Linked DNA regions of Homo sapiens: region 1 is linked to region 2. A link means that fine-mapping ties the variant in region 2 to the expression of a gene that starts in the linked region. Tissue or cell type: whole blood. Region 2 holds a variant in brackets; the other region holds the start of a gene. All regions are shown on one strand. Distances are between the middles of the regions.

The links. PIP is the estimated chance that this variant, and not a neighbour inherited with it, causes the effect.
Region 1: it holds the start of ARHGEF12, and the variant in region 2 is fine-mapped to the expression of ARHGEF12 in whole blood (TOPMed, PIP above 0.99).

What each region holds. Positions count from the first base shown.
Region 1 is chr11:120,333,971-120,339,117 of GRCh38, forward strand. It overlaps ARHGEF12 (Rho guanine nucleotide exchange factor 12), which reads left to right and starts at 2,443. Exons shown (of 41, transcript NM_015313.3): 1 at 2,443-3,305. The coding sequence starts at 3,274. RefSeq lists a silencer at 2,030-2,899.
Region 2 is chr11:119,944,466-119,949,612 of GRCh38, forward strand. It overlaps LOC105369526 (a long non-coding RNA gene), which reads left to right. Exons shown (of 8, transcript XR_948083.3): 4 at 343-590; 5 at 1,304-1,667; 6 at 1,950-2,068; 7 at 4,895-5,073. Among named protein-coding and RNA genes, the nearest start is that of LINC02744, 48 kb to the right of the region's middle. The variant A/C (reference allele first, on the strand shown) is at 2,882.

The DNA.
Region 1 (5,147 bases), 390 kb after region 2:
CATCATCTGAAGACAGCTGGAGGCCCTGTCTTGAGGACTGTACTACCAATGCCTAAAACAGTCTGGGATGCATAGTAGATACTTAGTAAGCATGTTGAAAGAATGGACAAGAGGATGAGAATGTGGTTTAGAATCATCCCCATTGGAAAACCTCCTCAAAGGTTTTCCCAGTGGATTGGGTCATCAATGTCATTTTTCTAAGTAAAGTACTACGGACCCTGAGGAGTGTGTTCTACCCAGACTGGCTTGACTTTCTGAAGGCATCCTATAGTTACAGCCTTTAGAACAGTTGAGCTATCGGCAGCTTTAAAGAGGCTTTCAGTTTTTTTTTTTTTTAAATCATTAATGCTTTGTAGGTGACTATAGAGATTTTCATCATTTAAAAAAATTAGTTCTGGAATGAATAACCACTGGCTTAATTCAATCTTTTGCTTACCATCTTCTGAAGCTTTCCCACAGCAAAATGCCTTCTTTGCTCACAGCTAGAACCGTGGGTCTGTTTAAGTTTGGAAAGATCTTGAAAGCAGCTTGCCAAGAGGTTTTGTATGCAAGGAAGAGAAGGTGAATTAGGAAACTTTCCCAGTTTGTTTTATTCCTGAAGCTTAAGTATTGAGGCTTCCCTCAAGTATTAAGGGAAGAGAGGAACTCCAAAATGCATGATTTGATGAGTCATTGGGTTCAATTAATTTTATACTTACACTGTAACATTATTAGGATAGGGGAAAATAAGATATTTAGTACTTTTAAGAAAGATTTATTAAGTTTGGGGATAAGGTTTGCATTTTGGTCAGTATATATATGTATATATGTGTGTATATATATGTGTATATATATGTATATATATGTGTATATATGTATATATGTGTGTATATGTGTATATGTGTGTGTGTGTGTATATATATATATATATATATATATATATATATATATATGAATGGGATTCCTTCCGGTTGCATGTAAACACTCAATTTAAGAGTCTTCAGGGTAGAATTGTCATGCTAGAATACACCAGCAGGTGGCAATGTGTCCTGGTCTCATCATTAGGGAAGTGCCTTGGCTAATCTGCTTCTATTCTTTCCAAAAATAAACATTACAAAATTAGTTGGCTGTGCCTTGAACCTAAAAAATCGAGCAATAAAGAGTCGTCTCTGGTCTCTGTTTATCTTTTCCTTTTTTTCCCCCCCGTTCTAACTAACGTCAGCGTGAGCTCATGCCTCTATTCGGGGATAATGATCCTTTCATGAACTGTTGCGGAATGACTTTTTGCAACAGCATTGTTAAGAGGTAATTGTTTCCTCTCTCCACATCCACTGTTTATTAGATTTGATTTGCTACTTGGATTCCACAAAATGGCTGAAATCCCTTGTCACCAACATAGGTTTAAGCTCAAAAGTCTGAAAATAGTTGGATAAAGGGAATAGCCACTTTGGATGTTTGCAGGCAGAACTGAAGAACTGTATTACATGTGGTACCTAAATTGCCAAAATACTGAATTATTCAATCATAAAACTAGATGGGTATCTAAAGCTCTCTACCCAGTAGGGGAAAAAACCGAAAAACCGTTTGGGAATCCTTCAGAGAGAACCGTAATGCTATTTACTGGATAAATATACTTCATTTTCTTCTCCCAGTTCTTTCCACAACACGCTTGTTAAGTCGCCATGGAAAGCACCATGCTTTATCAATTTGGCAAATAACACATTTCATTTTGCCAAGGCAGAAACAGCCTAAAAGTAATATTTATACCGAGAAACCCTGGCTGCAGTCCCCAGCTGCTCTCCCGCAGCCCTGCGCCTCCGGCTCATGCAGCGCTCTCCCCCCGGAGCCGGCAGGTGCCCAGGTGAGCGGGGCCTGCGGAGGCAGCGAGGGGCGCCGGCCGGGAACCGGCAGAACGCGTGCAGCCAGAAGACAGGAGAGATAATACATTCCCTTAAGTAATAAAAGTTTCCAGGACAAGGGGGGCTGGTAATTTTCAAAGAGCCTCCCGGCACGATGTCCTCGGGATCTGGGGGGCGCTCTCGGGCGGTCTCTGGTGAAAGTCGACTTAGTACAAACTGGACTCGAAGGGGCATGTCTCGGCACTCAGGGGCCCAGGCGCCGCGGGAGGTGGGTGGGCCTCCCGGGGCTGCACGGGTCCCACCTCCCTCTGCCCCGTAGGACTACTTTGCCGCTCTCCCAAACCGGGCTCCGGCGGAGGCGTCCGTTCAAGGGCGAGAGCGCGGCCCTGAGCGGCGGAGGGATCCCGGGTGAGGCGGCTTCCCGAAGTCAGAGGGGAGGGGGCCATAAAGTCGGCGGGGGACGGGAAGCGCGAGCTCGCGCCGGACGCGGCCAGGGCCGGGAAACCAGAACCGGAACCGGAACCCGCGCGCGCGCCCGCGGTTGCGCGGCCCCCACGGCCGCCGGCCTCCTCCGCTGTCTGCGCGCGCGCCCGCGAGGGCCTCCAGAACCCGGCGAGCCGGCCCTGCGCCGGGAGACGCCGCCGCCTCCGCCTCCCGGACCAGGGCTTCCAGGCCGGGCCGGACGGGCATCTCCCGCCCCTCGCGGGGAGCGTCGGGGAGGAGCCGCCGCCTCTGGCGATTGCGGAAGAGTCCGGGCCTCAAAGGGATGGGGAGCAGTCCGCGGCGCTGAGAGACCCGGGTCCCTGTCACCTCGGGCCGCGGGACCTCTCCGCCGGCGCCAGCGGCTCGTCCCAGCACCGGGAGCCTGGTGAGGGCGGCGAGCACAGAAGGAGCCCCGGGCCCGGGACATGGAATCGCGCGAGCCCGGCGCGGGACGGCCGGAGACGCGGCCAACGCTGCGGCCACGAGCAGCCGGCAGCCCCAGATAGAGAGCCGGGAGGGAGGGCCCCGGCCCTTGCCGCGGCGGGGAGTTCGAGGCCCCGAGACTCCGGAGGAGGAGCCGACACCCGTCCGTGAGCTGATCCCGCCCCAGCCCCGGCGGGAGTCCCGGGTCCCCTTCCCACTGCGCGCGGATTTCCCTCTCTGAGGAAGTTTATCCTTGTGCCTTCTGGAGGATTTCTCTCTAGCTCGACTCACTCTGGACTGACTCGCTCCCTGGCTTTCTCAGTTCGTTTTGGGAGATAACTTGTTTTGCTCCAAGCCGCATCCGTTGACCCCTTACAGTCGGATGGTCTAGATGACTGAATGGAGTTTTGAGTTGGACTTTTGTGTCCCTGACGGAGTTGGGCCTGATCCCAGAGCACTGGGGGTGGGGAGGAGGTGTTACTGTAAAATGCAAGTTGGATAAAAGGAGGACCTCTCGCCAAGGGCCCCAATGAGTGGCACACAGTCTACTATCACCGACAGGTTGGTATGAATTCCTCCTTCGTTCGGCCTCCCGGAATCGGGCCCGACCTAGCAGGGGAGTCGGTGATTGCAGATTGCCTTTGGCCAGCGAAGTTGACAGGCAGAGGAAAGAGGGTTGTTTCGGAGCTGTGCAGTTAGCCTGGGGTTGCTGCCGAGTTATCCAGTTGATTGGCTTTTGGAAATGTAATTTTTCCGGAGAGAAACTTCCCTTCCGATTCTCAGAGAAGGGGGAGGCAAAACCATGATTGTGGTTTTCCGCCTGTAGTGTGCATTAGGATTGTGTACTCGTCTGGAAATCAGAGGAGAAGGTCATTTTAGGTGAAGGTCGGTGCCTGAAGTCGGCTCGGTATTGGTGTATTATTTATCAGCTTTAGCCGTGTCCTGCAGTAGATTCTCAAGACAATTACATTTTAGGAATTTCTACCTGTGAACTTAATGTTGAGCCTACTGCATGGTGATCTGGGAACTTGATCTCTTTCAGATGTTGACCTGCACGGTGTTTAATTATTATCTAATAACTTTCCAGAATGTTGACATTACCAGTAAATCACAGGTTCTTGCTGGAAGCAATGTCCAGGAGCTGAAGAAATGAGGGTAAATCATGGGGTTTGCTTTTAATTCTTGTATTTAAATATTTCGTCTTCCAGAAACACTTGGCGTTTAAGAGATATAAGCCGTAAGCATAGTGTAAGCGCGCAGCTGAATTTGTTGAGTTCTGTGTCTGTCCTTTATAGCACCTACCAGTGTTGCATGGTGGTGGGTGGCGAATTGAGCTAGACCATGTGTGGTTGAAGTGCAGTTTGCTTATCCTAAGTTACTCTTGTTTATAGGGTAAGGGATAAAAAGCATATTGATTCCTTGACCACATTTCATTCTCAATTTAATTATGACACTGCATGCTAGTCCCAAATTTGTCAGCTTGCTTTATTTTTAAGTCAGTCTTCGAATTATTACACCGTGAAAAAATAGATCAAGTAACTGAATTAGAGGGCCAAAGCTCTTTGATGAAAAGTGCAACAATAGTGCTTCTGCACAAAGTAGTCTTAATTTCCTAATAAGAGTTTTACCCAATTGTAAGACTCATTTGTTGATTTTAAAAGGGCCAAATTCCATTATCATACCATAACAGCTACTCCAGAAACAGAACTTCCTCTTCCTGTTGATGCTTTCCAGCATCACATGAATGTTCACTTAAAAGAGTCTGTTAAATATTTAAAGTATTTATATTTACTCTTTGTGTATTTTTCAAAGTGGGTTTTCATTTTCAATGAAATAATTTTTAACTTTTCCAAGAATACACTTAAGATAAGTATTGACAATGCTTATCTTACTTTCTTCTGGTTATCCCCATTTTTTTCCTTTCAGGGTGTTTTGCTTCTGAGAAATCACTTTTACGGGTGTGGGGATAATTGTTTTCCTGCTTCATTCAATTCTCGCTCTTTCTGTTGAGCCTGTAAACAAAAGTCTTGCTAGGAACTAATGTAATGTTGGTTTTCATTGCGATGCTGAGGTGTTTAATTTATGGAAACAGAACGGACTCATTCCACACACAAGTGAGTGAAAAGCCCTCAAGTAATGGTTTTTCTTCAGCATTGCTTCTCAGGGATTTTCCTTGTCTTCTCGTTATCTTGGAAATAGAATCTTGGAATTTGTATCCTCTTTATAACGTAGATGGCATATAAACATTCAATAAATATGAAATTACTGAAAGCCTGTTTCTTTTCTTTTTCTTTTTTTTTTTTTTTTTTGGCCAGGCACTGTGCAGGCACAAGAGATTACAAAATGAATATTGTAAGATTAATCTGCAAATTGGTTTGGGCATTAATGTTTTTTGAACTGGTT
Region 2 (5,147 bases):
AAGCAGACCTGGGGGTTGGGAGAATGGGGTAGGAAGAGTCCCAGATATGCAGTGAAAAGTCATGCCCTGTTAACGGGGAGAGAATAGAAGGAGGGGAGGGGAGTGGAGGGAAGAGGAAGGGAGCAGAGGGGCTGAGAGGGGAGGGGAGGGGAGAGGAGGAGAGAGGAAGGGAGGGGAGGGGACAGGAGAGGAGTGGAGGAGAAGGGAGGGGAGTAGGAGGAAGGCAGTGCACATTGCATGCAGTAAGGAAAGTATTATGTTATAAAACTTTGTTTCAGCTTTTTGTGGGGTGAGTGTGTGTACTGGGTCCTGAGATAAAATTTCTTTCTTGCATGATCTAAGAAGTATGTGTGCATCACAGGAGTCCAGGCTTTGAGCCTGGGATCAGCACAGTTCCTGACTCTGACCCACACACCATGAGCCAAAGCTCTAGACCTTTCAGAAATTCTTCACCATCAGAAAAATGGAGGTGGCACGCCCTGCCGCAGCTGATCAACTTCCCAGATGTGCTGCGAGCCTGCAGTAAGAGAATGGATGTGAAAGTGCTTTGTAAACTGAAAATTCCAATGAGAAAAATCCATTATCATTAGGTACAGTTAACCAGAAACCTAAGAGGTAAACTTAGATCTGGATTTTGGGGGGTTTGTTTGTTTGTTTGCTTTTTGAGATGGAGTCTCACTCTCTCGCCCAGGCTGGAGTCCAGTGGCACGATCCTCAGTTCACTGCAACCTCTGCCTCCTGGGTTCAAGCAATTCTCCTGCCTCAGCCTCCTGAGTAGCTGGGATTACAGGCATATGCCACCACGCCCAGCTAATTTTTGTATTTTTAGTAGAGACAGGGTTTCACCATGTTGGTCAGGCTGGTCTCGAACTCCTGACCTCATGATCTGCCTGCCTTGGCCTCCGAAAGTGCTGGGATTACAGGCGTGAGCCACCACACCTGGCCTAGATCTGGATTTTGAAGAAGAAGAAGAAGATAATGATGACGATGATGACAGCTAATGCTTAGATGGTGCTTGCTATTCACTAGGCACTGTCCTATGATGGGTGGAATACAGGCTGTGGGGAAGGAGGGGCTGCTCTCTGTGGCAAGAGATGGGAACTGAGCTAGGCAGGTGGCTACAGCCACAAGAAGCCCTGGCTACTGGGCTGCAGCACATGGCAGATCACACCAAACAGAGATGGTACATTTTGGGGTTGGGTGCACAGGGACAGATCATCTGGAGTATGACGTGGTTTCCTTTGGGTGTCCTGAAGTCCCCAGCAAGAATGCTGAAACATGTCTGTCATGTTCCCTTCTACAGGAGAAAGAGATAGAAGTGGCCTGGCTTTGAAACATGGTGCTATCCCCTAGCAAGCAGAGGAGGAGCTTCCAGACAGAAAATGGTACCTTTCCCCAGAGTCTATGTTGAGGTGCACCAGCCTTTCCAGTCCTGAGAAAAGACAGAGTCATGGCTCCAGGGCAGGTGGGCATGCCTGTGTCCCAGGAGGCACTGTTCTTCCTGGCCAGAGACCCATGCCCACTTCAGAGGAGCCATGAAGGAGAAACACCAGGCCACAGTGGAGGACTGTGATCAAGGAAAAATTGAAGAACTGCTGCAGGAAATTGGAGCTGCCAATCTCCTAACAATTGGAATTTTTTTATACTGTGCATTTCACAAATGTATGGTAAGTGCTTGGGAATCACAAAGGTCCTATAAGTATTCAGTATTACAAGTCACATCCTGCTAACACAAGTACCATTGCAATGAAACTTTCTGTATGACAAAAGCAATTTCCACATCCTGGTCGGTGGCCCATTTATTTCAAACAATATTCAATATGCCAACAGTGATAGCTCCCTTCTCTGAGCAGGCAGGCTGATTGTCTGTCCTGTTAATTCTGTAAAGCATGCATGCACCATCTTGTACCATTCACCATTGTTTGATGCTTATTATTCTTGCCTTGAAGTCCTCAAGGACAGAGAAGATCCTGCCCTAAGGAGCAAGTGTGCGGAGGCCACCTGGCCTTCACTGGTTCCTGCACTGAATGTTTCCTTCTCACCTGCTGAGTACCAGGTGTTACCCCAGGTATGAGATGACCACGCCAGGAAGATGTAGACCCCGCTCTCAAGGGCTTACAGGCTGCAGGGCAAGTAGACCAGCAAACTGCCATCAAGATTCAGTGTGAGAGGTGCATTCTACAACAGCACTCAGAGCAGGGATCCAGGGAAGTGGTGCCTAACATAGACAGAAGGAGTCCAGGAGGACTTCCAGGTGGAAGTGACATCTAAAAGATGAATGAGAGTCATCCAGGCAGGTGAGGTAAGGAAAGGGTCAAGGGTCAAGGCAGTGGGACAGTGGTGAGAGCCAGACTAGAATTCCAGGTATTTGGATCAGCACAATGATAACAACAGCTCACTTTTAAAGAACACTTGCCAATGCCAGGCACATAGTAAAGGCTTTATAAGCATTATTTCATTTAAGCCTCAAATCAACCCCACTATCCCTATTCTACAGATGAAAAACTGAGGCTTTGAGAGGATAAATATTTTGTCTATTTAATCAACACAATCTAAATATTAGCCATCATTATTATCATAATTGTTACTATTATTATTAACTTCAGACATCACATCTCAACTAACCTCTTCTGGTGAAACAGGTACGGATTAACCTCCCCTAATGATAAGCTCACACCATTAGTAATGAGCTGCATTAGGATTTGAACTCAGTACTCAGATTCTGGAGATGAAAGAGGTCACCAGGCGGGGGAACGGCACCTACTCAGTCTCCTGGTGTGGTGCAGGGAGGGGTCATAAAGCATCAGTTGGGCAGGGCTGGTCCTGAGTGGCATGAAGGCTGTGGAAAGGCACCCATGAAATGTTCCAGAGGGTGAAGGGC[A/C]TGACAGCCTGTGGCTTTAGAAAACCTCCTCTGGCTTCATTATGAAGAATGGATTCAAGAGGGCAGAGCTGGAAGCAGGGAGATGCATTAGGGGCTATTTTCTCATCCAAGCAATAGATGTTGGCGGGGTGAAGTCAGGCTTGGTGTGGATGCAGAGGAAGTAAAAGATGAAAGAGCATTTTAGGAGGTGAACTGGATGGGGCATCCGCCACACAGGCTGGTGGGGAGGAGAAGGAAGCTGGGACAGGCAGTATGGTGCAGGGAAGGACCCAGTTACAGAGTCTGGCTCCAAAGGTGGGACAGGGCATCTGGAAGCCCCACTGCCATGCCCAGGGCATCTGGAGAGGAAGGAGGAGCTCCATAGGTGGCGAGGCTGCCATGTGGTGGATGTTTGAGGTGGCAAATAATACTTGCAGCTCAGCAGGCAATGGCCTGGTGGCTCTGCAGAAGCAGCCCCAGGGGAGGATGAGGATGAGGGATGTTGGGTGCAGCCAGGGAGGCTGGTTTCAAATAGTAGGCAGTCAGGGGATTAGGTCCAGAAAACAAAGAATAACTTAGATCAATGAGGGCAGGTTGGCATAGGAAATGGTAGAGTTGCAACTGCAGGGTGCTAAGGGTGCCTGGGTCCGGCTGGCTCCAGAAGTCAAGGTTGAACTCCCCTCATTGTGCACCTGAGCAGCTGACATCCTTCCAAAGACCAGGACATCAGGGACCCCATCTAGGATGGGATGAGACAGAAACAATGTTCTTGTCCTGTGTGGTTTTACTTCCCTCCCCGGGGCCCAGCCGAGGGGTGGGTGCGTGGGGGCACCTAGCAAACACTGGTTAAAATCAGAGCCCAGCATCCTGTCCCAATGTGCATGCCTACCCTCAGCTTTTGAAGTCTGAGGTGTCAACAGTGTGTAGTTTAGAAATCCTGGAAGGTTGCAAAGTGCTCAAGGGGATGGTTCTAAAATACGTAGTGATGCTCCCCCGCCAATATGTTGTGTGTTGTGGCAGGAGAAATATTTCCAGAGATGGCGACATCAGAACGCTACAGGAAAGCTCTAGAGAATTTAGTGCCTCTGCGTCTCTTCTCCTTCTCATTAGGAGACAGCAGTGGTGTTTTAAATTCTTTAAAGTGGCACTTCAGTCAAGGAGGAGTTTATAAAAATAATTTCTGCAGCATGGTGGATGGAGGGTGACAGGCAGCAGCCGGGTGAGGGGTTGAGAGGGCTGGGAAGAGAAGTCAAGCAGGCCACTGGGTAAACAGGGGGGACCCCTGAACCCCAGAGTCAAACAGAAAAGACTCTACCATATGCAGCCCTGGACAGTCAAGAAGCATGGAGCAGGGAGGGTCTGTGTGCTGATGGCTGATGGGCCCCCACTGGTGGCCTCTCAAGCCCCATTAGGGCTGGCACCAGGTATGGTCACTTCCAGTCCACACAGAGCTTTTGTAGGCACAAGGACAAGTGACCCCTTTAGGTAGATGCAGCTCTGCCCCAGGGTGCATGGCTTGGTGGGCAGAACACAGCCAAAGTTCAGCCCCCTAGTTCCCCCAAGGCCAGGTGCTTTGATGCAGAAAAATATTGTGCAACTGTTCATGGCAGTCCATGGGGAGAGACTGGGGTGCATCCTCGTGAAACACTGGAAAACAGAGCCAGAAAGCAAAACTGGAAATCATGGGAATCCAAGAGGAATTAAGACATTTTAAATAAAAAAAAATCTATTTTAAGATCCAGAAGGAGAGAAGACTCCTGATTAGCTAAGGCAACAAGCAGTGGTATGGGGAGAGAGTAGAAGCCACTGCAATCCCTTCCCCATCTAGGTAGTTAGGCCACGATTGGCAAAGTGCTTTGCCATGCATGATCCCTCAAAATTCGCACTGATAAAAATTCAGTGAAGAGACTTCCATAGAGCAGGGAGCCACAACTCAGAGGCCTCACTACTTGCCCAAGATCTCTCAGCTAGGGAGGTGGGGAAATGGGACTCGAAGTCAGGTCAGCTGACTTCAAATCCAACCCTTTTTCCTAGGTAGCCTCAGTGTGATGGATTATCTGCAGAGATCATCACCAGTAATCCTCCAGCCCTGTACATATCCACTCTTTTCCATCAGGAGGTGAAATTTATTTCCCCTCCCCTTGAATCTAGGCCAGTCTTGTGACTTGCTTTGACACTGACTTTTCTTACACTGTGCATTTCACAAATGTATGGTAAGTGCTTGGGAATCACAAAGGTCCTATAAGTGCTCAGTATTACAAGTCAAATCCTGCTAACACAAGTACCA